Linked DNA regions of Homo sapiens. The protein of the gene in region 1 interacts with the protein of each later gene in a pairwise test. Each region holds a gene or a part of one and is shown in the gene's direction. Other genes may lie near its edges. The genes, in order: GLYCTK, ZFP90, ATP23, ZG16, SAXO1, PUDP and ANKRD53.

Region 1 (4,791 bases):
GCACCTGTCCCAAAAACACATTTCTAATGTCAACCTAAAAATCATCAAAAGGTTCGATATCCAGTTAAAAGAATTTATTCAAGCATAAAGTGTGAGGGCAGCCATCCAGGGAAACACAGACACCAAGCAGTGGCAATTAGTGTTCTCCAGCATGGGGAAAGATGAAGGTTGTTTATATAGGCCGGGCGCCTGTAATTGTTTATACGCCTGTAATCCCTGCACTTTGGGAGGCCAAGGGCGGTGGATCACAAGGTCAGGAGTTCGAGACCAGCCTGGCCAACATGGTGAAACTCTGTCTCTACTAAAAATACAAAAATTAGCTGGACGTGGTGGCGGGCGCCTGTAGTCCCAGCTATTCGGGAGGCTGAGGCAGGAGAATTGCTTGAACCTGGGAGGCGGAGGTTGCAGTGAGCCGACATCGTGCCCAGGCTGCAGTGCAGTGGCCGTGAGCTGAGACTGTGCCATTGCAGTCCAGCCTGGGTGACAGAGCAAGACTCCACCTCAAAACCAAGAGAAAGAAATGTGTTTTTGTTTGTTGGTTTTTTTTTGAGACAGGGGCCCAGGTTGGAGTGCAGTGGCGTGATCAAGGTTCACTGCAGCCTCTACCTCCCAGGCTCAGGTGATCCTCCCATCTCAGCCTCCTGAGTAGCTGGGACTACAGGAGCATGCCACCACACCTGGCTCTTTTTTTTTTGGTAGAGATAAGTTTCGCCATGTTCCCAGGCTGGTCTCGCATTCCTAGGCTCAAGCGATCCGCCCACCTTGGCCTCCCCAATGTTGGGATTACAGGCGTGAAACACTGCGCCCTGCCAAGAAACATGTTTCAATAAAATTGTTAGGAAATCAAGTGTGTGATTTGTGATGCAACTCTCTCCTCTATCTCCCTAAGAAAACATCAGTAAAAACAGTGAACTGTTTTGTATTTTTGGAGTCTGATCAGGACTCATCTTATGAATGTGGGAAGGCATCCAGCCAACACAGGGTAGGCCCCGGATGAGAGTAGGGACAGCGAGGTAGGCCCAGAGTCATTAGCGTTTACATGCCGCTTATGTGCTTGAGGATCGCAGAATGGAACTCTTGCTAAGCCAGAGCTGTATTTGGTGGCCCATGGTGGGAGAGGGAAGAACAATAATAAGTTGTGGAATAAAAGCCATGGAGAGGAGCGGGAATTACTTAATCTGGCTCCAGAAGGGGTGAGTTGTGGGGAAGTAGTGATTCTCAGTTCGTTTGCTCAGCCCAGTCAGTGCCTGACACTCAGGGTGCATCTGCTGACTGACCGTACAGGATAAAGGAAGGGAGAGGCCGGGTGCGGCGGCTGAAGTCTGTAATCCCATCACTTTCGGAGGCTGAGGTGGGTGGATCGCTTGAGGTTAGGCGTTCGAGACCAGCCTGGGCAACATGGCGAAAGCCCGTCTCTACTAAAAAATACAAAAATTAGCCCGGAGTGGTGGCACATGCCTGTAATCCCAGCTACTCGGGAGGCTGAGGCATGAGAATCGCTTGAATCCGGGAGGCGGAGGTTGCATTGGGCCGAAACCGCGACTCTGCACTCCAGTCTGGGCGACAGAATGAGACCCCGTCTCAAAAAAAAAATCGGCAATCGGTGAGGCGGGGATTATTACCCTCAATGTAGAGATTTAAAAAATGAGGACTGAAGGTGACTCCTTCCAGGTCTGTCAGTGGCCAGCAAAGAGCCAATATGCTAAACTCTCCCCTCCCGGACACCGGCTTCAGCCAGAGCTCGCACCCGCCTGCGCCGCTCCACCCACCCACACTTCCGGCTTCCGCTCCGCCCACCCCCTAGTACTTCCGTTCTCCAGCGCTGGGCACCGCGGCCGGAGCTGTGGGCTGGTAAGTCTGCGCCGCCAGGGCTCGCATGGCCTTCAGAAGCGGTCCCTGGGCTGGGCGATGACGGGTCCTGGTGGCAGCAGGCCCTTCTTTCTCGCATCACCGGGCATTACGCGGCAGCCATTTCCCTCGCTAAGGCCCTACCTTAGGATGACGTCACTTCCGGCCCCCTACTGTCTAGGGAAAGCCGGAAATGGTACCAGCCTTCTTTGATGGCGGGGAGGAGTCAAGACCGGTAGTCTTCCTATTTCCGTTGTTTTGCTCTGGAGCCTCCCGGAGTTTCGGAGAGACCGTGTCTTGGATAGAATTGGAGGACTTAGCAAATAAAAATGCAAAGCGTCCAGTTACATTTTTTTTGAGTTAGAATCTCACTCTGTCACCCAGGCTGGAGTGCAGTGGCGCGATCTCGGCTCACTGCAACCTCCGCCTCCCCTGTTCAAATGATTCTCATGCCTCAGTCTCCCGAGTAGCTGGGATTACGGGCGCCCACCACACCCGGCTAATTTTTGTATTTTTAGAAGAGACGGGGTTTCACCACGTTGGTCAGGCTGGTCTCGAACTCCTGACCTCAGGTGATGCGCCCGCCTCAGCCTTCCAAAGTGCTGGGATTACAGGCGTGAGCCACTGCGCCGGGCCACGTCCAGTTAAATTTGAGTTAAGATAAACGACGAATAATTGTTAAGTCCTAAACATTGTATGCACATACTTATACTTTAAAAATTACTTGTTTATTTGAAATTCAAATTTAACCGGAAGTCCTGTATTTTCTCTGGCAGCCTTAGCATTGAGCGTCCCCCTGTCCTGTGCTCATACCCAGTGGCAAGGCTGGGATCTTCTAGGCTCTTGTCCATCTGGGAAATAGATACAAATTTCATCCAGGCTATAAAGACCGGCTGTCTTAGTTGCTAAGATGCTTTTAGCTCCAAGTCCAATGGGCAAGCTCCAGGGGTCCCCCTGGCCAAAACTGGACCCATTTTCGGAATCCCCATGACGATGCCCTCTGTGTTCCCTTTCACAACAGAAGTCAGGCATGGCTGTCTTTTCTTACCGGAGAGCTGAGAACTAGGCAAGCAAAATGGTCAAAGTCTAGAAGTAACCACCATATTTGGGTGTGGGGTAAACCGGTGTTTGAGATCTGTGTTGCAGTGGACAGTATCAGAGAGCCTGAGGTTGTTAAGGGAAGAGCGTAGTGTTAATCTCACCCCATGTCTCATTTTGCGGATGAGGCCCAGTGAGAGAAATGGAGGTGTCCCAGCCACTCAGAAAGCCTATAGTAGAGCTGGAACCTCAATTCCCAGCCTCCTTACCCTGCTCAGTCCATACTTGCTGATGAAGTCAGCTTGCAACATTTATGGTAGGCATTTATTAAAGTAGATGCAATAGTACATATGTAGTACAGATGAGCTGTTTGGGTCTTTGTTGTTCCTATACCCCTCTACAGCTTCCTGACCTTCGCCCCAAGGCTTCTTTAGCTTTTACTCTGCCCAGTGGGGAAAATGGCTATGGGCTCAGTTATGGGAGCCTGGCCTTTGCCTACTTCAGCCCTTGGGCTCTCACCACTGTGGGTGGTGTGACCTAGGACTTGTTTTTGTTATCTTGGAACCAGAAGGCGTGTTCTTGGCAGGGTTGGGTCTGGCCAACTGTGTGGGTAGAAGGGCATCCTTTTCTGTCCTGCAATTGGGCTTCATGGCACATGGCCTCACATGGTGCCTGGGGACTTTTCTAAGGTTCCACCATGAGCCAGACTTTGCCCTCACTCCTGATTTGAACCTAAACCTCTTGCTGAACTGGTCCTGCATACTGAGATTCCTCAGATTGCTTGCCCTGAGGATGTGTTCTGGGTTTGACCTGATAAACCTGCAGCCTCCTATAGACCCTGACTTCCCAGGCTCCTAATCCCAGTCTCATGAGATAATGAAATAGAGAAGACTGGAGGTCAATGGGCTCAGGGTCAGTTGGTGGGACAATCAACAGCTTCCTGGCAGCAGAGGTGGTAAAGAGGCAAGGAAGGAGTGCCAGAAAGGGGCGTTGCCCCAGGGTAACAGCGCAGAAGTGCAGGGGGTGGAAAAGGGGTGGGATGGGAGCCCACTGGTAGAAATTACTCCCTCTGTCAATGATTAACTCCCAGCCAAAGGGGTGACCTGGGAGGAGGGCCCAGCTAATAGGAACTTTGGACTTGAGGCAGAGTATCCAGAGGGCCGGCATGTGGTCTGCAGAAGAGGAGGACGTGGCTGGGTGGCAGGGCTGGTCTCCAAGGACGAGTAAGATCCTGCAGCTGCAGGCTTCAGGAAGTCTCCTGGGGCTATCAGATGGCTCCTTCTTGTAGCAGCAGCTGTGGGGTCCACTGGCCCTGAGCCCTCAGAGGGGCGGCCGTGGGGGACCTCCTGTCTTTTGCCTTGCAAGGGCCTCAGTTGTGCTTTTTCCCTCTAGGCAGCCATGGGTGCCAGGCAGTGCTGAGAGCAGTGGGGCATGGCTGCAGCCCTGCAGGTCCTGCCCCGCTTGGCCCGAGCCCCCTTGCATCCACTCCTCTGGCGGGGCTCAGTGGCCCGTCTGGCCAGCAGCATGGCCTTGGCAGAGCAGGCCAGGCAGCTGTTTGAGAGTGCTGTAGGTGCAGTGCTGCCGGGCCCCATGCTGCACCGGGCACTATCCTTGGACCCTGGTGGCAGACAGCTGAAGGTGCGGGACCGGAACTTTCAGCTGAGGCAAAACCTCTACCTGGTGGGCTTTGGCAAGGCTGTGCTGGGTATGGCAGCTGCAGCTGAGGAACTACTGGGCCAGCATCTTGTGCAGGGCGTGATCAGCGTTCCCAAGGGGATCCGTGCTGCCATGGAGCGTGCCGGCAAGCAGTAAGGAGCCATGGGGGCCTGCCTCCCTCTATCTATCTGGAGGGAAACCTGGGCCCAGACACAGGCTGAATCGGGCCTCCCCTCCCCACCCGCTTCC
Region 2 (3,022 bases), on another chromosome or scaffold:
GCCTGTATGTTGGACTTTGCTTTTGAATATATGTATGCAGGATATCATCAAGTTTCAACATCTTGACTTGTGACCCCCAATGTCAACAGCTTTTTTAAAAAGCAAATTCCTGCAGTAATGACCAAAACCCATTTTAAAAATTGCTTGACAACTGCACTCAACTGCAGCTCTTACATTAACTTCACCATGGAAACCAGTTCCAACTCCAGGAAGTCACCATTCAAAGAATTAGATCAACTAGCCCAACCACTTCATTGTACAGATGAAGACTGAAAGCCAAAGATGTGAAGTGGTTTCCACAGTATGATACAGCCTATAAGGGTAAAGCTGGGTTAAAAATGCAGGTTTCCTGGATTTGGGGCCCCATGGCCTTGCCAGTGAAAAGGTTATTTTTGGACTCAGAGGGCTTTAAAATAAATTTTAAGATGTATCAGATACACAAACATTTAATGGGCACCTATGGGTTGGACACTTTGAGAATTCTTAAAAGTATAAGTGGGAGCAAAATGTATGCAAATTTATCACAAACTATTTAAAGCAACTTCTTGGAGGCTTACAAACCACAATTTAACAGAAACTGTAGATGGTTGAACTACTAGTGACTTTTTTCCCCTTTTCCCAGTTACAATTATACTTTCAGCTAACATATGCCAGTTTCACAGAACTATTAAGTCCCCTTATTGTACTTTTTATGGCATGCCCATGAAAAAGCACTTTCTTAAGCCTACAGTATCAGATCAATGGGAAAACAACAGAAAACTAAGAGGAGAATTTTCCCGTTAATTTTCTTGCAGAAAAGTTAAGTCTAATTGCCCATTGCCATAAATTTTGCCTTGTACTCAGAGAAGCAACATGCACTGGCTCATTTTATGTGCAAAGAAAAGATTTCACCATTAAAAAAATTAACTTGGCTAGGTATGGTGTCTCACACCTGTAATCCCAGCACTTTGGGTGGCTAAGGCAGATAGACTGCTTGAACCCAGGAGTTCAAGACCAGCCTGGACAACATGGTGAAACCCCATCTCTTTAAAAAAAAAAAAAAATCCAAAAATTAGCTGGGCATGGTGGCATGCAGTGGTAGTCCCAGCTACTCAGGAGGCTGAGGTGGGAGGATCACTGGAACCCGGGAGCAGAGACTGCAGTGAGCTGAGATCACACTACTGCATTCCAGCCTGAGCAACAGAGCAAGACACACACACATCAATTTATTTTAGTTGTATAATGCTTTTCTATTAGTAAAGCATCAGCTAAGCTTCAGTGGCCTGCTCCATCCCCTAATGACTCCCATGGGCTATCCTAAAGGAACTTCCAGAACCTTTGTTGGTGTGTTGACATTGACCATGCAGACCAATTTGGGCACAACTGGACATTGATTCCTTTTACACAAGAGCTGCCTCCCAAAGATAGATAAATTTTCCCAGCCCTAAATATGAATCATGGGGCAAGATATTGGTCGTATTGATGGTGAACCTTTCCTACTGGATTCTTTGCATGCCACATAGCAGGATTCATTGCCTTTCTCTCATCATGGATGGCATGCAGCAGCACCCAAGTATTCTTCATTCTTTGCAGGGAAAAAATTGTGCATGGGGGCTGAAATGTAATATGTGTAGCTCAATTAGTCTCTCCTCTGTGATGCAAAATGGAATATTCAATGGCAGATCTGCCCTTCTGAGATGCTGACCATCCAAAACACCTTGTTTATGGTGCACCATGATTAGCTCACACACAATGCCAAGGCTGTGCTTCTATTATCTGATACATAGTTTGACAATGGGTAATTCTACTCAGACCCTCCCTACTGATTGGCTAGGATGCCTGTCAGGAACTCATTATGCTACTGGTTGTTTGGGGATCCCCATAGTGGACTACTTTCAGGAATGGCATGAATTGTAACCAACTGAGTGCTGCCCCCACTGTTACGGAAGTTTATAAAACCTTAGTTCCAGAAGACCCAAAGGAGAGTACTGGTTTGTGTTTGGTGCTTGGCCTAGATCCAGCCACCACTCTGAAACTCAGCACATCTTCATTGACAGGGAGGGAGCCCAGGACATATGTGTGGCTCATTGACCAGAAGGCTTTCTTAGTCCCAACAGCCATGAACCATGCACTTATGGATACCCAGCCTTTTAGGGCTACGTGAAATGCATCCTTGTAACATCATTGTATTCTTTCAATAAATAGCCTTCTGAGTTGAATGGGAGTCAGTTTGTCGTTTTCAATTTTCAGAACTTGGCTAAGATTAAAGAGTGGTGCACCAAGAGGGAGGAATTAACTGCTAAACTCATCACAGCCAGGTGAGTTAATAGCTACCATTTATTGAATGCTTACTACTTTAAAGACATTGTGCTAGGTGTTTCACATCTGTCATTCAATCCTTATAACTTCTGGTTAGCGGTGTGGTGGTAGTTCTTGTCTTTGCCCAGCATTTTCCCCCTTTTCCTCTTGCAACAATCTGATTGTATTGACTGTAGGAACCTAAATCAGGATGTCCCTGGGGCTCACTGATAGTTTTAGGGGCAGGCATGAGACCTAGTTCAGCTAATCAGAGTCCTTTGCCAGAATTTTTTCCAAGTAGAGCTGGAAGGAGCCCTACTTTGGGCTTTTGTGTTGCTAGGCCAAAAGATAAAGGCCTAGAGCTTCCTGGAACCTGATTTCTTACCAGAGATGGGAAGTAGGAGAGGACAAGGTTGACATGATGGTGTTCTTGTTTCTATTTCCTGATGTCCTTAGACCTGGCTCAATTTCTGAAGCTCTCCTTGGGATTCAGGAAGCTCCCCATCAGTCCAACAGTTTCTCCTTTTTGCTCAAGCTAATTTTTTATGTTTGTTGCTTGCATTAAAGAAACCTAAAATATGTATGATATACTTTTACCTGCCAGAGCATCTAGCGCACCTCCATGGAAGATGAGAAAAGACTTCTGCACTTTTAGGCATATTGATGGTGGTGATGCTTGGTTTTTTTAATAGCTGCAGTAGGCTTTTCACTTTGCAGTATTCTGACTTCAAGATTGAGCACTTTT
Region 3 (4,351 bases), on another chromosome or scaffold:
TTGGAGGTGGTAGATAATGTCATGTGATCAGGGTAAATGATGGTGTTATAAGTAACTGTTTCCCACTTGAATGTATAATTCATACTTAACTACACTTAACTGTTTCCTGCTGGATAATTTTGTATGTATTTAGGTTATTTATAGCATTTTTACAGTAATCATGTGAAGTGGCAATATAGAACAAGGATGAGAAGTCTAGATTTTGGAGTCAGACTTGAGTTCAAATCCTAGTTTCCTTGCTTATTATCTGTGGGGCTTGGGCAAGTTATTTTTCTTCTTCTCAGTTTCCTCATTTGTAAACTGGTAATCACAATACCTATAGCTCTCAAAATGGCTCTGGATAAGTTCACTCCCTTCTCGGTCCCCCCAGGGTTAAACAGAGTGCACATCTTGAACTTTCATCCTAATTCTCAGCAGTGTTGAACACAGTTGGGCACCCTCTCCTTTTATTTTATTATTATTTTTTAAATTATTATTATTTTTGAGACAGAGTCTTACTCTGTCACCCAGGCTGGAATGCAGTGGTGCAATATGGGCTCACTGCAACCTCTGCCTCCTGGGTTCAAGTGATTCTCCTGCCTCAGCCTCCTGAGTAGCTGGGATTGCAGGCATGTGCCACCATGCCCAGCTAATTTTTGTATTTTTAGTAGAGTCAGGGTTTCACCATATTGGCCAGGCTGGTCTTGAACCCCTGACCTCAGGTGATCCACCCATCTTGGCCTCCCAAACTGCTAGGATTACAGGCGTGAGCCACTGTGCCTGGCCTATTTTTTTAAATGAAAATTTTTATTATGAAGTATCTCATTCATACAGAAGAGTAAAACATCTATATGTACACTTTCAGTAATAATAAAGTGCACACCTATGTAACCACCACCCAGACTAGAGAAAAAGAACATTACTAGGACTTCAGAAGCCTTCGTGGTCCTCTTGAATCAGGTCCTTTTCCCTTCCTTATCCTGACTTTTGTGGTAACCATTCCCTGCTTTTCTGAATGGCTTTACCATCTACATATACAATCCAACAGTGTGTTATTTAGTTGCCTGCTTTTGAGCTTTATACATGTTATACTTTGAATTTTATGTAGCATTTTGTAGTATTATGAAATTGTACAGTATATAGTCTCCAATTACTTTCCACCTTCAGCATTTGTGAGATTCTTTCTTGTTGTTGTGTGTACCTCTCTGGTTTATTTCGTTTCCCTGTTATATGGTATTTATTCCGTTGTGTGTTTATACTATAGTTTACTCTAATATTGATTGTTTCCAACTTTGTTATTATGAACAATGCTGCTATGAATATTTTTGACCTTCGCTACTGGTGCACATGTGCAAGAGTTTCTCTAAGGTATATGCTCAAGAGCAGAATTACTGGGTCATATAGTTTGTATACACTTGACTTCAGCTGTTAATGCCAAACACTTTCTTTGGTTTCTAGTATACAGCACTCTTCTGGTTGCTCCTTTGCTAGCTTACCTTCCTCTACTAGCATTTAAATGTCAAAGTCCCTCAATCCTTGGTCATAGAGCCCCTTCTTTTCTTACTCTGCCAAGGAGGTCTCATCAATTTTCTGGGGTCAAAGCTCACTTTTAAGAACTCCACATTCCATATATCCAAGTGCCCATTTAACACCTCTACTTGAGCATCTTTTTATTTATTTATTTATTTTTATTTTTAAGGAAAAAAAGTTTTTTTGGGACAGGGTCTTGCTCTGTCGCCTAGGCTGGAGTGCAGTGGCGCAATCATGGCTCACTACAGCCTTGAACTCCTGGGCTCAAGCAATCCTCCCATCTCAGCCTCCTGAGTAGTTGGGACTACAGGAGTGCATCACTGGACCCAGCTAACTTTTAAAATTTTTTGTAGAGATGAGGTCTCACTATGTTGCCCAGGCTGGTCTTAAACTCCTGGCCTCAAATGATCCTTCCATTTCAGCCTCCCAAAGTGCTGGGATTACAAGTGAGAGCCACTGCTCCCCACCTACTTAAGGGTCTTAAGGACACTTCAGACTTGAAATGTGTAAGTCCAAATTCATGATTTTTACCATCCCCCATCTCCCCACTCAACCCAGTCTTTTAGTTTTGCATATCTCAGTGGATGGTGCTACCATCGACCCTATTAGCCAAGCCAGAAATTTATGGATCATCTTTGATACCCCTGATTCCTTCCCCGTATTCTATCAACATATTTTGTCTAATTTACCTCCTAAATAACTCTTTTGGCTTCCACCACCATTCTAGCTGAAGTGCTGTTCTCTCTTGCCTAGAATATTAGCCTTCAGCTAATTTCTCTGCATCCAGTTTTGGCCATCTCCTGCCTATTCTTCCAACTATAGTTAAAAGGATAAAAGCAAAATAAAACAAAAGCAGTCTTCTGTTTCAACATTCCCTTTATCCTGAGAGCTTCCCATTGCTCTTAGGGTAAAGACAAGGTCTTCAGGGATTTGGCCCCCCGACCTCACCAGCCGTATCTGTTGCCTACCACCCCCACCGCTGTGCTTCAACTCTAGGGCTCTCCTTTTAGCTTCTCAAGCATTTTCTTCCGTCAACCCTCCCTCTACGCTTTGCATAGGTTTTTCTCTCTGCCTAGAATACTCCCTTCCCCTCCACACCTCAAATTTCACTTCTATTCCTCCATTAGATACCAGTTTAACCATTCCTTCCACAGAGAAACCTTCCCCCACCTCCAGAGTAGGTCAGGCATTCTTTCTTTTTCTTTTTTTTTTTTTTGACACAGGGTCTCCCTTTCTTGCCCAGGCTGGAGTTCAGTGGCGTGTTCCTGGCTCACTGCAGCACCAACCTCCTGGGCTCAAGTGATCCTCCTACCTCAGCCTTCCAAGTAGCTGGGACTATAGGCATGTGCCACCATGCCTGGCTAATTTTTATTTTATTTTTTTATAGAGATGGGGTTTTGCTCTGTTGCCCAGGCTGGTCCCGAACTCCTGGGCTCAAGGAATCTGCCTGCCTCAGCCTCTCAAAGTACTGGGATTATAGGCATGAGCCACTGCACCCAACCTCATTGTATATGCTCATGACAACCTGGGTTTTTCTTCATGACAACTGTCATTGCATGTATGTAAACATTTTGGTAAATATTTGGTTAGTTTCTATCTCCATCAGTAGATTATAATCTATTATTAGGTCTCAATAAGTATTAGTTGAATCAATGGATGTTGAATGAATGTATATAAATATCTGGCACATATCCCAGTGTCTGGCAGTAGTACACAATCAATGGCAGCTATTACTATTAGGATCCCTTGTGTCTTTCTTATTCTTATAGGGTCCTGCTCAGTGTGCTGTTGTGTTTTGCACTTCTTTCTGAAGGTCTTTCTGATGAGTTTTCCCTGGCATTTGCCCTCATTCTAGTAAAATGAGGACAGTGGTGGTCATTCCTTTTTCATTCAATGCTCATTCAGAAACTTGATAAGAAGTATTTTACATATATTCTCATTTAATTCTCACAGTTCTATGAGGTAGCTACCCTAATTATCTCCTTTTTATAGTTGAGGAAATTGAGGTACAGAGAGATTAAGAAACTTGCCTAAGGTCACTGAGTTAGTAAGGGGTGGAGCTGGAATTTGAATCTGTGTGCTTCATTCCAAAGCCCACTCTCTTAACCATAATGCTGTGGAGTCCGAGACAGACTAGTACGATCAGCCCAGTAAGGATGGTGTGTGAATACGTGTCCTTAATCTAAGTACTGCTGTAGTCCAGAGAGAGGAGAAGGGAGAAGTTAGTCACTGGGCGAGGCAATTGGAGCATGTACACTTAGGACTAGGACTTGTCCCATGGGTAGATGTGTGGCCAATGAAGAAGAGTGGGTAGAGATATTCCAGGCAGGTGAGCTTGTGGGGGAGAGGTGAGGTCATGTGGGAGAGAAGATCGAGTCTATGGAAGGAGATTTTAGAATCACTGAACTTCTTTTATTTTGGTGTCTCCTAGATAGTTTTGTGCCAGAATAATATCCATAATCAGGCCCATATGAACAGAGTGGTCACACACGAGCTTATTCATGCATTTGATCATTGTCGTGCCCATGTCGACTGGTTCACCAACATCAGACATTTGGCGTGCTCAGAGGTGAGTTTTATTGTATTTTTCTCCAGAATACTCTATGCTTGAATATTTTATTCAAGTGTAATTTATTTAAATGTATTCCTTTTCTTACTGTCATAGTTCTACCTTAGTCTTGAATTTCGGTTTATAACTAACATTGAATACCATTTTTGATATACAGTTAGAGAAATTTAAAGTGTATTTTTAGAATTCTCTTAACTATATCCTGTAAGTCCTAGTAATAGTGATGACTGACTTTAATAAGCTATTAATTTTTTCCTATGGAATATATTTTAT
Region 4 (4,896 bases), on another chromosome or scaffold:
CAGAGAGGAATCAGTCCTGAAAATGAAGGGCATACAGAGAAAAAAAAAACTATGACATCACCCCTGGGGGTGTTACAGACCTAAGAAAGAAGCAATGGCCCTGGGCGGCCTACAGCCCCAGGAAGATTCAGCCATGGTACCCAGGAGACTTGAGGGCCCAAAGCCCAGAATTACCCCCAGAGGAACACCTGTAGACCTTCGGATCCTTAGCTTTGCACTTCCCATTGGACTGACTCTGTTTCCTGTGGGGCAATAGGCACGTGTTCACTGTGCACCTGCAGCCCCAGTCATCCTTCTCAGAGAGAAATGGTTTGGGAAGTGTTTGGCATATTGGGGATAAATAGATGAGTGGATAGAAAAAAAAATGCAGGCCAGGCACAGTGGCTCACGCCTGTAATCCCAGCACTTTGGGAGGCCGAGGTGGGCGGATCACGAGGTCAAGAGATCGAGACCATCCTGGCAAACATGGCGAAACCCTGTCTCTACTAAAATTACAAAAATTAGCTGGGCGTGGTGGCGCATGCCTGTAATCCCAGCTACTCGGGAGGCTGAGGCAGGAGAATCGCTTGAACCTGGGAAGCAGAGATTATAGTGAGCCGAGATCGCGCCACTGCCCTCCAGCCTGAGGGATAGAGCAAGACTGTGTCTCCAAAAAGAAGAAAGAAAAAAAAGCAATTACAGCAAAATATTAACCATAGTAGAATCTATACAGTGGTTATATAAGTGTCCACTATACAATTCTTTTTTTTTTTTTCCTTTTTTTGAGACTTGATGTTTCGATCATGGCTCACTGCAACTTTGACCTCCTCAGCTCAAGTGATCCTCTTGCCTCAGCCTCCTGACTAGCTGGGATCACAGGTGTGCACCACCATGCCTGGCTAATTGTTTTATTTTTTGTAGAGACGAGATCTCCCTATGTTGCCCATGTTGGTCCTGAACTCCTGAGCTTAAGCAGTCCTCCTGCTTTGACCTCTCAAAGTGCCGGGATTACAGGCATGAGCCACTGCACCCAGTCTTGCTATACGATTCTTTTGTTTTTTTTTTTTTTTTTTTTGAGATGGAGTCTCACTCTGTCGCCCAGGCTAGAGTGCAGTGGAGTGATCTCAGCTCACTGCAACCTCTGCCCCTCAGGTTCAAGTGATTCTCCTGCCTCAGTCTCCTGACTAGCTGGGATCACAGGCACCTGCCATCACACCCAGCTACTTTTTGTATTTTTAGTACAGATGGGGTTTCGCCATGTTGGCCAAGCTGGTCTCAAACTCCTGACCTCAGGTGATCCAGCTGCCTCAGCTTCCCAAAGTGTTGGATTATGGGTGTGAGCCACTGGGCCCAGCCACTGTACAATTCTTTAAACTTTTATATGTGTTTGGATTTTTCATAATATTAGAAAAGGGAAAGAAAAAAATGTCTGGCAAATAGTCAGCACTCGTAAGTATAAGATTTTGGGAATATATTCCCTTCTGGGAGAATCCACATTTCGAATGCCTGGGAAGGGCTCTGTTTGTCCTGACAGATGGCAGATTTCAGGTGAGAGCACCTACTAAGCCTAGAGGTGATAAGCTACTTTGCCCACCTAGAGCTGCTGGTGGTGACCTTAAGTTTACTATGTTTCTCCTGGTATACGGCACTTGGCCCAGAGTGGACTCCAGCTTGCCACCTGTCACCCAGGCTGGAGTGCAGTGGCGTGATCTTGTCTCACTGCAGCCTCAACGTCCTGGGCTCAGGCGATCTTCCCTACCTCCCTCCTGATTAGTTGAGGCTACAGGTGCTCGTCACCATGCCCGGCTAATTTTTGTTTTTGTTTTTTGTTTTGGTAGAGATGGGGTCTCACACTCTTGCCCAGGCTGAGCTAGAACTCCTGGCCTCAAGCGATCTGCCTCTGCCTCCCAAAGCATTGTAATGACAGGTGTGAGTCACCATGCCCAGCCAGGAACTCAGAGAATCTTACCCTATGCTGTAGTATCTGTTGACTATGGGGTAGAGGCAGGATAAGGTGTTCCAGACCCTGCCTGACACCTGATCCGAAGAGGTTGCTCATGTTTGCTCAGGAGGTGAGGTTCACACAATAAAGGGCAGGAGGAGGGCTTGGACCTGGTATAAAACATCTGGAAGTTTCCAGGGGGCTGCTTTGCATCTGAAACTGTCAGGTGAGGGGTGACAGAGATGCCTGAATCTGAGTTGGGGGGGAATTCAAATCTGAGCTGGCGAAGAGGATGCCTGGAAGGAATGGCAGGAAAGACTTGAGTTAATTGGCGCTTCTGGGTCTGCAGTAATCTTAGGTGCAAAGCTGTCTAGGTCTCTGCTGAAGGACTGGGGACACCTGGGATGTTCAGGAGAATAGAAATGGCCAGATGTGTGTTAGTGGAGAAAAGAATAGTGACACATAGACCAGGCACCTGGGGTCTAATATCTTGAGCTGGTCCCGACTCCTTCTGCAACTTCTCTGTCTGTCCTAGTTCCACCAGCACTGCTTGGATACTGGTGCTGGCACAGTTCCTTCTGTCACCAACTTTGCTCCCCAGGTAACATAGAGGCAACTCTAAAATGCTTCTTTCCTTGAGACCAGGTGGATGCCAGGGATTTAAACCATGCTCCAGGTGCCCCATAATCCAGGCCAATTCACCACAGATGATGAGGCTTTCTTTGCTCAGCCTCTGGGCTCAGTAAACTCAGCCATCTCTTTGCTTGGGAGAGGTCCTCTACTCCCTCCTTAGAAAACTCGTTTCCTGGCTATGGCCATACCAACCCAAATGTACCTGGGCTTGGCTGACTTCAGAAAACTTTTCTGCTTTGTGCCAGGATGGAATAAGGCTTAATCCAGATAGTTAGAGTTCATCTTCAGGCCTGAGAGAAAAAGAGGAGGGCTTGGCTACAGCCAGACCAGGGAGAGCTGGAGGGGTCAGGGACATTGAAGGTAGCATCAGAGAGGAACAGGACTACAGGCTATGGACAGTCCTTTCTAAGCTCAAGACTGGGTCTGCTAGGTCTAAGTTGAAGGACGAAGAAGGCTTGGTCTGAGCTGCAGGTCAGGAGTGCCTGGGTCAATCAAGTCAACAAGGAAGAAGGTGAATCTTCATTTGCTCTTTTCTTCCCACTCCAGCCCCAGAATGTTGACAGTCGCTCTCCTAGCCCTTCTCTGTGCCTCAGCCTCTGGCAATGCCAGTAAGTGAGATACCAGGAGCCTGGTATTGGGGACTTGGGAAGGCAGCCTTGGGCACTGCTGTTGGCCAAGGCTTTTGGAGGTTGGCTTGGGGTGGGGAGCTGAGTTGTCGGAGGAACAGGGGTGATGCAGAGAAACTGAACTCCTGGAAGATTTCTCCCTCCAACTCCTGCTTGCCCCTCCAGTTCAGGCCAGGTCTTCCTCCTATAGTGGAGAGTATGGAGGTGGTGGTGGAAAGCGATTCTCTCATTCTGGCAACCAGTTGGACGGCCCCATCACCGCCCTCCGGGTCCGAGTCAACACATACTACATCGTAGGGTAAGATTCTTTGAATTCCTGGCTGGGCGCGGTGGCTCACATCTGTCATTACAATGCTTTGGGAGGCAGAGGCAGATCGCTTGAGGCCAGGAGTTCTAGCTCAGCCTGGGCAAGATGCCAGGGATGCCAGGGATTTAAACCATGCTCCAGGTACCAAGACCCCATCTCTACCGAAGAAAAACAAAAAAATTAGCCAGGCATGGTGGTGAGTACCTGTAGCCTCAACTACTCAGGAGGGAGAGGCGGGAGGATTGCCTGAGCCCAGGATGTTGAGGCTGCAGTGAGCCAAGATCATGCCACTGCACTCCAGCCTGGGTGACAGAGTCTCTTTGTTGGCAAAATGAGTTGAAGTTCCCTGTAGGATCTTCCAGGGTTCACCCAGGCTTCACAGTCTGTAGGACTAGCCAGAGACCTCTCATCCCTATCATCACCTTTCTTTCTCCTTCCTTCCTCCCCTCTTCCTCAGTCTTCAGGTGCGCTATGGCAAGGTGTGGAGCGACTATGTGGGTGGTCGCAACGGAGACCTGGAGGAGATCTTTCTGCACCCTGGGGAATCAGTGATCCAGGTTTCTGGGAAGTACAAGTGGTACCTGAAGAAGCTGGTATTTGTGACAGACAAGGGCCGCTATCTGTCTTTTGGGAAAGACAGTGGCACAAGTTTCAATGCCGTCCCCTTGCACCCCAACACCGTGCTCCGCTTCATCAGTGGCCGGTCTGGTTCTCTCATCGATGCCATTGGCCTGCACTGGGATGTTTACCCCAGTAGCTGCAGCAGATGCTGAGCCTCCTCTCCTTGGCAGGGGCACTGTGATGAGGAGTAAGAACTCCCTTATCACTAACCCCCATCCAAATGGCTCAATAAAAAAAATATGGTTAAGGCTAGTCTGTGTGGGGGCATCTGTGGCTGGGATATCTGCCTCCTGACTTAGCCGGGGACGTGCAAATCTCACTTCTGGCTGGCTTTGGACATCTGTCTGGAAGATGGGAAGATGAGGGAGAGGTATGTAAGAATCCTGGGCTTTGTGCTATAATTTATCAAGAGGAGATGAGATTCTGGCTTGCATCAACGCTCTTCAAGGACAGCTCCTTGGAACATTGATCCAAACTGGAGTCATGGGTCTGAGGGCAAGGCCTAGTTGTGGCTTACACCAAAACCCCAGATGTCCCACTCTCCAGCTCTCCTCACCCCTGGTCCTCCCCTTGAGAAAGTGGTGAACTCACTTGCTGTGTGTGGGTGGCCAGGACCATTAGCCTTTGTTCTTTCCCAGAACCCACCTGACTCCTGAAACTTAGCTGAAGTCTGTGCCCGAGGACCCTGCCCTGTTACCAGGCCCAGTTCCTCCTCACCTCTACCCATGAGCCCCGGTGTCCTGCTAAGCCCTCTCAGATCTGGGATTCCTCCTTCCTCAGGAAGCCAC
Region 5 (4,351 bases), on another chromosome or scaffold:
CCTCCAAAAGTGTTGGGATTACAGGCGTGAGCCACCGAGCCTGGCACATTGACTCTTTTCTAAAGTCTGGGTCCCTCCTCCATTGTAATCTTTCTTTAATTGGTCCCTTCCCTTTTATTCCGGTTACAACCTCCCTGGTTCTCTCATTTTTGTGTTTGGAAACTGGTCCTAAATTACCTTCCTAGTTTTTTTTTCTCCCATGATTCCCTTACATGAAACTACACCTTGAATTGGATCAGGTTTCTTGGCATCCCCTGAGTGGACCTGCTGATGTCCCTTTTCTGATCCTTATCCTTTCCCTTTCTCTAAAATACCTATGTTCCCTCCTCCTGCTGGACTTGTAAGGCCCGGTTTCACTTGCAAGTTCCCTGTTAACCCAGCCCTGTGGCTCCCCATCAAAGAAAAACCCCGCTCCGTGTTCTCATCCTCTATGCATCAGCATGCTTTATATCCTCGATTAATTATATGTACGCTGGGAAAACAGATATTTTCTATTTTTGTGTGTGCACTGTATCATAGCAACACAGTTTTCTTTATTAACAGCTAACACATATCTTTTTGAATGAATGGATGGCGTTTTTTGTTTGTCAAGGTCATAACATGCTGGACTGGGTTAGGAATGTAAGATTTAGAGATGTACTGTCCAGTATGGTAGCCAGCTGTGGCAATTTCATTTAAATAAATGAAAGTTAAATAAAACTAAAAATTCAGTTTCTCAGCTGCACAAGCCACATGTCAAGTGCTCAGTAGCTACTCGAGTATAGTCACTCCCATACCGGCACATGCAGATAGGGAGTGTTTCCATCACTGCGGAAAGTTCTGTTGGACAACACTGATCTTGAGTCTCATTATTTGGAAGTCTTGATCTCTCCCACCCCAATTAAATCCCTCCCACCCCAATTAAATCTGCTCAGTGACCGGTTGGGATGGAGCGAGGAATTTTATAGGTGTTTTCTAAGCTGTGGAAGTCTATATTTGGCTTTTCCAGTCTGAGGTCATGGGAAAAAGCAATGGGAAATCTGGAAGACAAGCATGCATGAAGAAGTCAGAGACAGCGCCCTTGAGTGGGAGGGGGAGACCGGGGTTCCTGAGTGAGTCACTGGTTCTCTCTGGGCTTCAGTTCCCCCATTTTTTAATCCTGGAGATTTGTGGAGACCCTCAGGGCTGCCAGGGAGGGAGAGAGGCACATTTATTCCCCCTTCTCTCTCACATTCTCTTCTTCCGAAGTTTTTCTTGAGCAAATAATTCTTTAATGTCCTTTCAACTTTAACTTTTGAGGACATTGTACTTGTTGGCGAGTGGGCTCTGGAGATGCTCAGAGGCCTGGATAAAAAGGTGTCCATCTGCAGGAGCAGCTGCCCACAGCTGCTGAGGAAAAGCCACCAATGGGTGACTCTCTTGGAGCAAGTTCTTATATTTGGCCACAAGATGGCAGACGTTTCCTGATCAATTCTCACTGCGGGTTAAACCAAATCAGCCTGAATGGAAAAGCAAAACCTTTGGAGTTCTGGATTTTATTTTATTTTTAAATAGATTTATCTTTAGTTTTCTAAAATGAGCAATTAGAGTTTAGGGTCCAGCAGAGCTCAGGAAAGTGGTACGCCTTTCAGAGTAGATGGCAGATTACGAAGTGAAAAGTGTTTCAAATGTCTAAATTTAAAGATTCCAATCACTTGTAAAACTTTTCAGTGAGCTTTGCTGGGCTAAAAAAAAAATCAGACATATTTTACTGCGTCAAGCTCAAGGCTTTGCCTCCACAACAATGCTCTACTTCTTTCCTTGAAGATCAAAATCTTGCAATTGGAATTATTACCATAGAATGTCATAATATTCTCTTTTCAACATAATCAGCACCAAAAAAGCAGAGTATTGTGGTTTGCAGAAACAGTAAGGTCAGCATCTAAATTTTTTTTGAAACTAATGTACCACTTAATTATCTTGACTTAAGAAGCTACATGGTGGGGGAGTGCTTTGAATAGAGTAACTCTAATTTTGTATATGAGAGTATAATGTTTCCAATTGCATCTGATTATCTCCAGCATTTCCTGTTATTGAAAAAATGCTACTCCGAAGAGTTTTATTTTTTATTTTTTTTGAGACGGAGTCTCGCTCTGTTGCCCAGGCTGGAGTGCAATGGCGCGATCTTGGCTTATTGCAACCTCCGCCTCCCGGGCTCAAGCGATTCTCCTGCCTCAGCCTCCCGAGCAGCTGGGATTACAGGCGCCCGCCACTACGGCCGGCTAATTTTTGTATTTTTTTTGTTTTGTTTTATTTTGCCTCTAAACCATCTTTTATTGCGCACTTCAGCCGCGAGTCCGGGGCTGGCCTGCCGTGCCCTAGGCGTAGTACTGTAGGTTGGCTTTCTTCTTGGCCTGGACCTCCAGGATGCCTTCCATGTAGTCCTCGTGGGTGAGCTCCGTGGCACCCCTGCGCAGTGCGATCATACCCGCCTCCACAGACACAGCCTTGCACTGGGCCCCGTTGAAGTCATCTGTGCAGCGGGTCAGCTCCCTCGCAGTTCACGTCAGGACTGACGTTCATCTTTTGGGAGTGGATCTGCATGATTCTGGCCCAGGCACTCGATCTTGCGGTCCAGGCCGCCCTAGCGTAGCAGGGCGGGGTCCAGGATGTCCACCCGGTTTGTGACTGCAATTACCTTAACTTGGGTGTTGGGCTGGAAGCCATCCAGCTGGTTCAGAAGCTCCAGCATCGTCCTCTGCACCTCTCGGTCCCCGGACTTCTCGCTGTCAAAGTGCTTGGTGCCTATGGCATCCAGCTCATCAGTGAAGATGATGGAGGGCGCTTTCTCCTTGGCCAGGGCGAAGGCATCCCGGACTAGCTTGGCACCATCTCCAGTGAACATCTGCACCAGCTGGGGGCCAGTCAGCTTTAGGAAGGTGGCCTTAGTCTGTGCCCTACAGGCCCAGGCCAGGAGGGTCTTCTCCGTCCCTGGGGGCCAGCACCCCTTTTGGATGTTGGATCCGCAAGTTCTCAAACTTCTCCTTGTGGTTCATTGACAAGACAGTGGCCTCCACCAGTTCCTGGATCTGCTTGTCCAAGCCCCCAGTGTCACTGTATTGCTCCGTGGGTCTCTCATCCACCTCTGTGGCCTTCACCCGCGAGTCGTACTCTGGGCAGTGTCTCCAGGATTGGATAGGAGTCTTTGTTCACACCCACCAGGTCTCCTGGCTTTAGCTTTTCAACATCCACCAATCCAATCACAGGTAGGAAGTATGTCTGTCGTGTAGAGGTTTTGATCACAGCACACTTGTCCTTCCTCTGGGAGTCCAGGTCAATATTTGGACCATCCTCCTCTTGATCATTGGGATCAACATCCAGGAGCTCGATGATGTTGGAGACAAGGTACACCAGGGTTTTGTTCACATTGATTTTCTCACTGTTCTCTTTGATCTTGTCCTTCATGGCTTGGAGCTCATGGGTGACTCTCAACAGTTAACTCTTCATGATCTTGATCTCACTGTCCAGAAGCCATGTGCGCTGGATGATCTCCTCCGTGGACATGTTGAGCACCTCCACCCCAGTTCCATCTTGCTTGGCCTCATCCCACACGGTTGCCATCTTCTTTTCTAGTTTTTGAATTTTTAGTAGAGATGGGGTTTCACCATGTTGGCCAGGCTGGTCTTGAACTCCTGACCTTGTGATCCACCCACCTCAGCCTCCCAAAGTGCTCAGACTACAGGTGTGAGCTACCACGCCCGGCCCAGCATTTTATAATATTAAACCACCTTCCATCTTTACAGTATTTTGAAAATTCAAAAAGTATTTTCCCATATATTATTATCTTACTGTGGGTCCCTCAACATGGGAAGCATTGCTTAGTTTGGAAATTCGATTCCTTGATTTTAGCCTCTCTTTTCCCTGGCGATGTTTTCAGTCTATTGAGCTGTTCTTTCCCAGATGACTAAATTTGAAACTGTGGTTAGGTGGGGGAGTGGGTGGCGCAAGGCAGGGTTGCTGTAAAGTAAAACGTTAATCAGACTTTTAAAGCTGAAAGGGATCTTAGTGGTCTCTAGCTCTTTTATTTTACAGATAAGGAAATAGAAACATTGAGATTAATTTTAATATATGGGAACATGTTAAGCTTCAGGCACAATTTAGGTCAATCAATTAAATTTTATTCATATTTTACTGGGTATCAGACACTGCTAGGTGTTAAAATTTATAGTCTGGTCTATTTTCGAGTCACACTGGACCATTTAAAAAATTGATACATAATGATTGTACATATTTCTGGGGTACAAGTGACATTTTGATATATTCATATAACATGTAACAATCAAATTAGGGTAATTAGCATATCTATCACTTCACACATTGATCATTTATTTGT
Region 6 (3,718 bases), on another chromosome or scaffold:
TTTTAATAGTCTGTAGGGTACAGGTGGCTTTTGGTTACATGGATAAGTTCTTTAGCAGTGATTTCTGAGATTTTAGCACACACGTCAACCGAACAGTGTGCACTGTACCCAGTATGTAGTCTTTTCTTCCTCACCCCGCTAGTCCCCAAAATGCATTATATAGAATTCTTATGGCTTCCCATCCTCATAGCTTAGATTCCACTTATAAGTGAGAGCATACGATATTTGGATTTCCATTCCTGAGTTACTTAGAATAATGGCCTCCAGCTCCATCCATGTTGCTGCAGAAGACATTATTTCATTCCTTTTTATGTCTGAGTAGTATTCCATGGTGTATATATGCCTCATTTTCTTTATCCGCTCATTGGTGGATGGGCACTTAGGTTGGTTCCATATCTTTGCAGTTGCCAGTAGGAAACACCCCATTTTCAATGTGGGTATCTGAATGAAGAGACCACGGGTTTTGGATGGTGTTGTGTCTGTAATCCCAATAATAAAGTGGATTTTCGCGATTATCCAAAAGAGAGCATGCACGCACACTACGTTTTCGTGCTCATTTGTCACGTCACACTAGCACACACAGGAACTGAATTTTTAACTTAAAAGATTCTAACCATTTAATTTTCAAACCACAGTACATAAAACAGGAGCAGCTCTGAAGTGGTTTTATATTTTAAGAGCATGATTTTTAGTTTTGCAATTGCCTCTCACACTCTGAATGTTCAATTATTGATTGAACAGATTGTTATGATCCCAATAAAATAATAAAGTTTTAAGCTGAGAATCTTGCCTCACCACACAGCTGCGCTCCATTTCAACAATGCTTTGGCTGCAACAGAAACCTCTCCCCTTTAAAGGAGCCACGGCGGGGAGACCCCCGGAGCCAGTAAGAAACAGCATGCTGTCCTCACCACAATCTCTACTCTGGGGAGCCCCCACTGTAATTCTGTCTCTTTCTGCACAGTTGCAGAGCCAATGGTGACGACGATAATAAACACTTCATCCACATGTCTGGTTCCATAAAAGGCCATCTCGACTTTCTTTTTCTTCCTACAGTGCCTTGTCTTTGAAGATGCTCCCAATGGGGTGGAGGCGGCCCTGGCAGCTGGGATGCAGGTGGTCATGGTTCCTGACGGAAACTTGAGCCGAGATCTGACAACAAAGGCCACCCTGGTGCTGAATTCCCTGCAGGACTTCCAGCCCGAGCTGTTTGGTTTGCCCTCCTATGAGTGAGAGGGAGGGCCTCAGTCTTCCGCCCCCAGCCCACTCTCATGGTCCACACTGCTGGGGGAAAGGGAAAGGAAATCAGCAACTCTTCAATCCCAACCTGCGCTGTGATTTTAGCCTCCTGAGATTGGAGTTTCCATCCCATGTTGGTTTGTCCCAGTCTAACGTGTTGATAAAATGTGACTTGACGGTTGAGACAAAAAATACAGTAGAGACAGAAACGAAGCCCAGAACAAAGATGAAACTTGAATTACCATCTCAGAAGTCAAGCTGATGGAGTATGTGATAAAGTGAATGTACATGTATATACACACACACCTCCATATATACATGTGTGTATCAGTTTGGTAATATGCAGGTAGGCATTACATGCATATGTATGTAGACATATGCATGCATGTATATGTAAAATATATACTTTTCCAAGACAAAATGGAACATCACTTCTCTCTTCTAGTTTTTCTGAACACTGGCTGGGAAATGTAAACTGTGTATGCATATAAGTATATGCTTTATGTATGCATATGTATGTAGATATGTTTATATCTATCGTCTGCATCACTCTCCTCAGTGTTGATGTCAACATGCAATGACAACTGATAAAGCGAGATGGTAGTTCTGCCTGGTTTGCAGTCTGAGTGGGAAAGTCCTGTTTTTGATGAGCACTCCTTGTTAGCTAACATTTAAATTCTTTTTGTGACCTCAGAATGTCTCTGGATCTTTCCTCATTGACTGACTCTGTGCCACGTCATCCATAGTTTATTGTTAGTATGAACACAACTGTAACATTTACCTGGTATCTACATCCTTACCTGCATTGGAAAATGTTTGCTACCTCACAACAACCATTTGCCTCCTTTAAGAACACTGATGGGCTGCACTTTTTGGATAGAAATAGAATTTGATTTCAGAATGTATGCTTGGTGAGTCTCAGTGCCCAGGAACACTTTTGGAATAATTTATCAGACATTGAACTTCTGTGATTAATCGCTTTTATAGATTTACTCAGTCTTTAAAATTCGTCTCTGATTTGCCAGAGAAAAACGGTGGTAGCCATGGAAATCGGGAGTGAAGGAGCACTGCTTCATTGTGGCTCAGCCCTTCCTAGGGGCCTCTGCCCTTTGATGTCCTTGAGCTACTCTTCAGCTCTGGAAGTTGTGGACAAACCGTAGGAATGTATGTGTGCGTGTGGTGGAGTGATTGTCTGTGAATGACAGGCCCTGGCTATTGATTGATGTTGCATCAATTTAGCAAATTCATTTCCTCATTCTTGATGGCCTGAATATATGTCTGCACTTTTAATGCTCCTCTTAACCAGTTGTAACATCTTACCATTTCCCTAACAAATTGAATTAGTTTAATAAAATCTTTTGACACATGTTGATATTTGTATGAGAGTCATGATTTTACCTTAAAAAGAAAAAAACAGTCTTCCAAGAAATGTAAAATATATATGTGACTAATTAAATTTTTTAAAAATCCCAATTAGTACTCCAACTGTAAACGGATATTTATATATTTTAAGTGAGCCGTCCTGCTCCTGCAGTGGTGAATAGAGGCTTTCAATGAAAGACTTACTTCTTTGATTTAGTATCTTCTCCTTCCCAAGTATTTATGTTGGTGTTTTCTAATCATTAAGCCATTTTGTATGAATAAGACAAATGGGTGTAATGCATATCTAAGTGATGTGCATCTACATCTGGGTGAATTTCCTACAGGGTAAATTTGATCTCATGTCCGTTACTGTTTTTTAACCAAAGCTGCTGCCAGATTCTTATATTTTTAGACAAAGGACACACACTGATGCTTGGCCAAAGCACATACGTTCTTTTTTATTCTTCCACATTAGCCAAATTGCTTCAATACATTTTAGTGATGTTACTCCATTGAATAGCTCATGGATTTCACAGAGATATGGTAATACAAATTTACACTAGAGTGATACATGCCAAGGAAGTTTAAAGAGTAATTATACTTTCATAGCTCATTGAAAGTATGTCGTATTAGGGACACACAGTGATTAGTAGAATGTATACAGGTGTGCTGTAACTAGCAGCTAATGTTTGCTTATATATTGTGTGCCCCTAGGAAGGACCTGTTATACTGCTGATATCATCCAAGAGATGGCGCTATCAACGTCATCTTAATTTCACTTAAATGAAACATACACAACACTTAAGAACTTACTGATTACTACTTATTAGACTTTTTTTCCACCTCATAAATCCTCAGATGGAGTTTGGTGTTTTATATAAAAAAATAATCTGGAAGACACCTGTCTTATACTTGAAAGAATCGGCATTCTAAGGAATAGGAGTGATGCTGCTGTGCAACAGTAGTCAGTGTCTAGACACTGCAGTTTATATTTCTTTGATTACATTTGGCAGTTATGCTAAATTTGGCACATTTTATATGGTGTTTCAAAATTTTAAAAAACGTGCACATTAGAACAAGTTTTATAATGAAAAATAATGAGTTTTCACCTATCTGT
Region 7 (4,833 bases), on another chromosome or scaffold:
GTGTCCACCGGACAGGGGGCCCTTCCCTGCTTGGCAGCCGAGGTGGGTGGGGGTGGGGGCGGGGACAGGGGGAGGGAGAGAGAGAGAGAGAGAGAGGACAGCTTACGCCATTATTTCTGTGTATCAGAGACTTTTAGTACTTTCACTAATTTTGCTACTGCTATCTAGAAGGCAGAGCCAGATGTACAGGATGGAACATGAAAGTGAAACAGGAGTGTGACCGCTGAAGTACAGCGTCACAGGGAGATGTTTAGGCCTCCAGATAACTGTGGGCGGGCCTGACTGATGTCAAGCCCTCCACAAAAGGTGGTGGAGTAAAGTCTTCTCTAAACTCCCCCTGGGAAAGGGAGACTCCCTTTCCCGGTCTGCTAAGTAGCGGGTGCTTTTCCTTTGCATTGATGCTACCGCTAGACCACGGTCCGCCAGACCAGGGTCCGCCAGACCACGGTCCACTTGGTAACCGGCGTCTTCCCAGACGCTGGCATTACCGCTAGATCAAGGAGCCCTCTGGTGGCCCTGTCCGGACATAACAGAAGGCTCGCACTCTTGTCTTCTGGTCACTTCTCACTATGTCCCTTTGGTTCCTATCTCTCTATGGCCTGGTTTTTCCTAGGTTATGATTATAGAGCGAGGATTATTACAATATTGGAATAAAGAGTAATTGCTACAAACTAATGATTAACGATATTCATATATAATCACGTCTATGATCTAGATCTAGATCTAGTATAACTCTTGTTGTTTTGTATATTTTATTATACTGGAACAGCTTGTGCCCTCGGTCTCTTGCCTTGGCACCTGGGTGGCTTGCCGCCCACAGAAACTAAGTCAGATAACTTGCCAAAAGCCACACTGCTGATGTGCAGCGCACCCGCTTCACTGCAGGTGGAAGTGGAAGTGAATAATAACCTTCCTGGAAGGCAGTCTGCAAGCCCATATTGACAGCTGAAAAATATTCATTCCCTTTCACCTAGTGATTCGACTCCCAGGAATCCATTCTAAGAAAACAACCAGAGTTGAGCCATTTCGTTCTTGGCAGCACATGTGAAACAATGGCACATCCATTATGACGCTGGGCTCTGGTTGCGTCATAATGTACGTTTAGTATGTGGAGTGACAATGGGCGCTAGCTCGTAATATAATGCTATTAATAAACGAAAAGAGATACAAAAAATAGTCATGATATGCATATATATTGCAATAAACCATGATTTCTGTGCGTGGTGGGATGGTAATTTTTAATTTCCACATTGAATATTTCTGTTTTCTACTTATTAGTTTGATAATCGGAAACAAAAGCCAAGTGTCTTTGTTGTTTGTGTGTTTGATGCTGAGTTTCCCGGGCAGCAGGACTGGGAGGTTGAGTGGGGGTTTTGGCTCAGACCGGGAGCAGAGCGGCGGGTGGGGAGCGGCAGGCGGGCAGGGTCCCCGGAGGCCCCCGGGCTCTGCCCCTCCAGCTAGAGAGGCAGCCGAACCCTAGCGGCCTGGAAGGGGCCGGGAAACCGCGGCCAGCTGGCAAGGAGTGGCCCCCGGGGGCGGGGCGCCGGCGGGTGTGTGAGTAGCCCGCCCGGCCCGGGTCCGAGTTCCAGCCCCGCGATGGCCTCCGCGGGCAGCACCGCTCGGCGGGCGGGCTCCGGAAGCTGGCACTCAGAAAGGGGAGAAGGGAGAGGTGCTCGGCCGCAGCCAACTCCAAGTGGCTCCATGCAGCAGGCGAACAAAGTCTCCTTGAAGGCCACCTGGACTGACGCGGAGTCCAAGCAGCCCAGGTGGGTAGCGGGAGAAGGTGTCCCGGCTGCAGGGAGCGAGAACCCGGCCCAGCGCCTCCCTGGTGGGCAGGGCCTGGAGCGGGCGGGGGCGGAGGCTGCGGCCCGAGAAGCCAGCAGAGACAGGCTGGGGCCAGGGATCGCCTCCCGAGAGGTGCCTAGGCCGTGGCCCAGAGTCGCTTCCCCACTGCCCCGCCCACCAGCCAGGCGGGGGCCAGGGATCGCCTCCCGAGAGGTGCCCGGGCCGTGGCCCAGAGTCGCTTCCCCACTGCCCCGCCCTCCAGCCAGCCCCTGCCCGACCTCGCAGACCACCTCAGTGCGCAGGCGACTGCCCTCGCCAGGCCGCGCCGCCCTGCCTCGCTCACCCCGCCCCGCGCTGACCCCAGCCCCAGCAAGGAGTCCGACCAGACGGCAATCGACCAGACGGCGATCGGGAGCTACTACCAGCTGTTCGCAGCGGCTGTGGGCAACGTGGAATGGCTGCGATTCTGTCTGAACCAGAGCCTCAGGGAAATCCCCACCGACGACAAGGTAAGGTCTTGAGTGTTGGGGCAAAGACCGAGGTCCCTCTCCCGCTACGCTGCTCGGAGTGGTCACCTGGAGAAGAGATATCCTTTTCTGGGTAGATCTTCCTAATTTAACTCATCTTCTGGCTGTGGAAGGACCATTTTGGGGGCAGGGAGGTTGGGTGGGCTGATGAACACACACTGGTTAATTAGCAAAAGGGTGTGAGCATTCCTGGGGACACAGGGAAGAAAGTGAAGGTAACCCCAATAAATTTATATAAATTGTGGACCCTGGGACCTCAGTCCCACTCAGCCTCCTCCTGCCTGCTCTGAACCTCACAGGGCTTCACTGCCATCCACTTCGCCGCCCAATGGGGCAAGCTTGCATGCCTGCAGGTCCTGGTAGAGGAGTACAAGTTTCCCGTGGACCTGCTGACCAACAATAGCCAGACACCCCTGCACCTCGTCATCCACAGGGACAACACCACCGTGGCCCTCCCCTGCATCTACTACCTGCTGGAGAAAGGCGCAGACCTCAATGCGTGAGTCCAGCCTGCTTCAGGAGGGAGGCTTCGGGCACAGGCACGGGCACAGCCCTACTTCCAGGCAGGCAAATCCATGCAGGACAAGCAGAGGGGTTGCTGGAGGTGACAAGGATTGGGTCCCACATAAAGCAGTCAGGAATCCACATGGTGTAATAAAGAGACTGGGCTTTAGCCGGGCATGGTGGCTCATGCCTATAATCCCAACACTTTGGAAGGCCGAGGCAGGCGGATCACCTGAGGTCAGGAGTTCAACACCAGCATGACCAACATGGAGAAACCCCATCTCTACTAAAAATACAAAATTAGCAGGGCATGGTGGCGCATGCCTGTAATCCCAGCTATTCGGGAGGCTGAGGCAGGAGAATTGCTTGAACCCAGGAGATGGAGGTTGCGGTGAGCTGAGATGGTGCCATTGCACTTCAGCCCGGGCAACAAGAGCGAGACTCCGTCTCAACAAAAAAAAAAAAAAAAAAAAGATTGGCCTTTAACAGACCTAGTCTACATCCCAGCTCTGCAACTTGCTAGCAGACAGCAGGACCTTAGGCAAGTCACTCAACCTCTATGCCCCAGTACTCTGGCTCCCAAACTTAGGTGTACATTGGAATTACCTAGGGAGCTTAAAAAATATGAACACCTGGCCGGGTGGCATGGTGGCATAGTCCCAGCTACTTGGGAGGCTGAGGCAGGAGAATCGCTTGAACCCGGGAGGTGGAGGTTGCGGTGGGCCGAGATTGCTCCAATGCACTCCAGCCTGGCAATAGAGCGAGACTGTCTCAAAAAATAAAAAATAAAAAAAATTAGGCTGGCCGCAGTGGCTCACGCCTGTAATCCCAGCACTTTGGGAGGCTGGGGCGAGCGGATCACGAGGTCAGGAGATCAAGAACATCCTGGCTAACATGGTAAAACCCCGTCTCTACTAAAAATACAAAAAAGTTAACCGGGCGTAGTGGCGGGTGCCTGTTGTCCCAGCTACTTGGGAGGCTGAGGCAGGAGAATGGCGTGAACCTGGGAGGCAGAGCTTGCAGTGAGCCAAGATCGTGCCACTGCACTCCAGCCTGGGCGACAGAGCGAGACTCCGTCTAAAAAAAAAAAATTAAAAAATATAAACACCTGTGTTCCAATCCAAAGGCTGTGATTTAATGGGTCTGTGGTGTGACCTGGGCTTGGGAAGTCAGAAAAGATCCCCAGGTGCTTCTAACTTGAAGCTAAGTTTGGGAACCTCTGTCTCAGTGTCTTCAACTGAAACTTGGGAGAATAGCAGTACCTATCACATGGGACTACTGTGATCACTGAAAAGTGCATGGCATATAGGAGACTGCATTCATTCAAAGTATCAAGTATGCACTATGTGCTAAGCACTATGCTAGAGTCACAGAAATGGTCCCTCTCCTCACGAAGCTGACATTCTAGTAAAGGAGCAGACAGTGAATTAGCAAACAAATAAATGAACAAAATCCTGACAGAGCATGGGAAGTGGTTATGAAAAAATAAACGGGGTGATGGTGTAGGGGGTAAAGCAGGTAGGGGGAGGATCTATTTTGGATGAAGCAATCACCTCTAAGGAGGTGACATTTAAATTGGAACCTGAAGACAGAGTGAGCCAGCCATGCAAAGAGCCAGGGAAAAGTGTTCCAGGTAGAGGTAACATCATATGCAAAGACCATGTGTTGGGAAAGAGTGGGCAAGGTCAAAGGATAAGATCGAGGAGGTTAGGCCCAGGTCATGCAGATCTTGTGGGCATACGGAATCTGGTGAGGCATAGGGAAAGGGCAGGGGGCTGGTTGGTTTAAGAGTGGATGAGGTTAGTGGTCTCTGAACCAAGCCAGCTCTCCTTCCAGCAGTTCTTAACTATCACATACCTTCTAAAGTCAGATTTTTACTGTTCACTTAGTCCAATTCCTCCCTTTACAGTAAAGGAAATTGAGGTGCCAAAAGGGACAGACATAGCTAGGATCACCCAGTGGACTGATGGTAGAGCAGGGCTTGGAAACTGGTGTGTCCATCTATCTGATGGACAGA

The links.
Region 2: the proteins of GLYCTK (region 1) and ZFP90 interact in binary tests that used the Homo sapiens proteins (3 or more experiments, as listed by UniProt).
Region 3: the proteins of GLYCTK (region 1) and ATP23 interact in binary tests that used the Homo sapiens proteins (3 or more experiments, as listed by UniProt).
Region 4: the proteins of GLYCTK (region 1) and ZG16 interact in binary tests that used the Homo sapiens proteins (3 or more experiments, as listed by UniProt).
Region 5: the proteins of GLYCTK (region 1) and SAXO1 interact in binary tests that used the Homo sapiens proteins (3 or more experiments, as listed by UniProt).
Region 6: the proteins of GLYCTK (region 1) and PUDP interact in binary tests that used the Homo sapiens proteins (3 or more experiments, as listed by UniProt).
Region 7: the proteins of GLYCTK (region 1) and ANKRD53 interact in binary tests that used the Homo sapiens proteins (3 or more experiments, as listed by UniProt).

The regions. Positions count from the first base shown.
Region 1 is NC_000003.12:52,286,026-52,290,816, forward strand, and holds the start of GLYCTK (glycerate kinase), read left to right. Parts: upstream 1-1,802; 5' UTR 1,803-1,851; exon of another isoform or gene 1,852-4,278; 5' UTR 4,279-4,317; coding exon 4,318-4,694; intron 4,695-4,791.
Region 2 is NC_000016.10:68,564,934-68,567,955, forward strand, and holds the end of ZFP90 (zinc finger protein 90 homolog), read left to right. Parts: 3' UTR 1-2,198; downstream 2,199-3,022.
Region 3 is NC_000012.12:57,947,818-57,952,168, forward strand, and holds part of ATP23 (mitochondrial inner membrane protease ATP23 homolog), read left to right. Parts: intron 1-2,896; exon of another isoform or gene 2,897-3,067; intron 3,068-3,940; coding exon 3,941-4,078; intron 4,079-4,351.
Region 4 is NC_000016.10:29,776,160-29,781,055, forward strand, and holds the start of ZG16 (zymogen granule membrane protein 16 precursor), read left to right. Parts: upstream 1-2,096; 5' UTR 2,097-2,147; intron 2,148-3,100; 5' UTR 3,101-3,107; coding exon 3,108-3,162; intron 3,163-3,345; coding exon 3,346-3,478; intron 3,479-3,944; coding exon 3,945-4,260; 3' UTR 4,261-4,896. UniProt on the Homo sapiens protein: May play a role in protein trafficking. May act as a linker molecule between the submembranous matrix on the luminal side of zymogen granule membrane (ZGM) and aggregated secretory proteins during granule formation in the TGN.
Region 5 is NC_000009.12:19,026,120-19,030,470, reverse strand, and holds part of SAXO1 (stabilizer of axonemal microtubules 1), read left to right. Parts: intron 1-4,351. UniProt on the Homo sapiens protein: May play a role in the regulation of cilium length. Stabilizes microtubules at low temperature.
Region 6 is NC_000023.11:7,047,811-7,051,528, reverse strand, and holds the end of PUDP (pseudouridine-5'-phosphatase), read left to right. Parts: intron 1-1,056; coding exon 1,057-1,233; 3' UTR 1,234-2,609; downstream 2,610-3,718. UniProt on the Homo sapiens protein: Dephosphorylates pseudouridine 5'-phosphate, a potential intermediate in rRNA degradation. Pseudouridine is then excreted intact in urine.
Region 7 is NC_000002.12:70,977,050-70,981,882, forward strand, and holds the start of ANKRD53 (ankyrin repeat domain-containing protein 53), read left to right. Parts: upstream 1-1,580; 5' UTR 1,581-1,596; coding exon 1,597-1,766; intron 1,767-2,047; coding exon 2,048-2,294; intron 2,295-2,611; coding exon 2,612-2,811; intron 2,812-4,833. UniProt on the Homo sapiens protein: Required for normal progression through mitosis. Involved in chromosome alignment and cytokinesis via regulation of microtubules polymerization.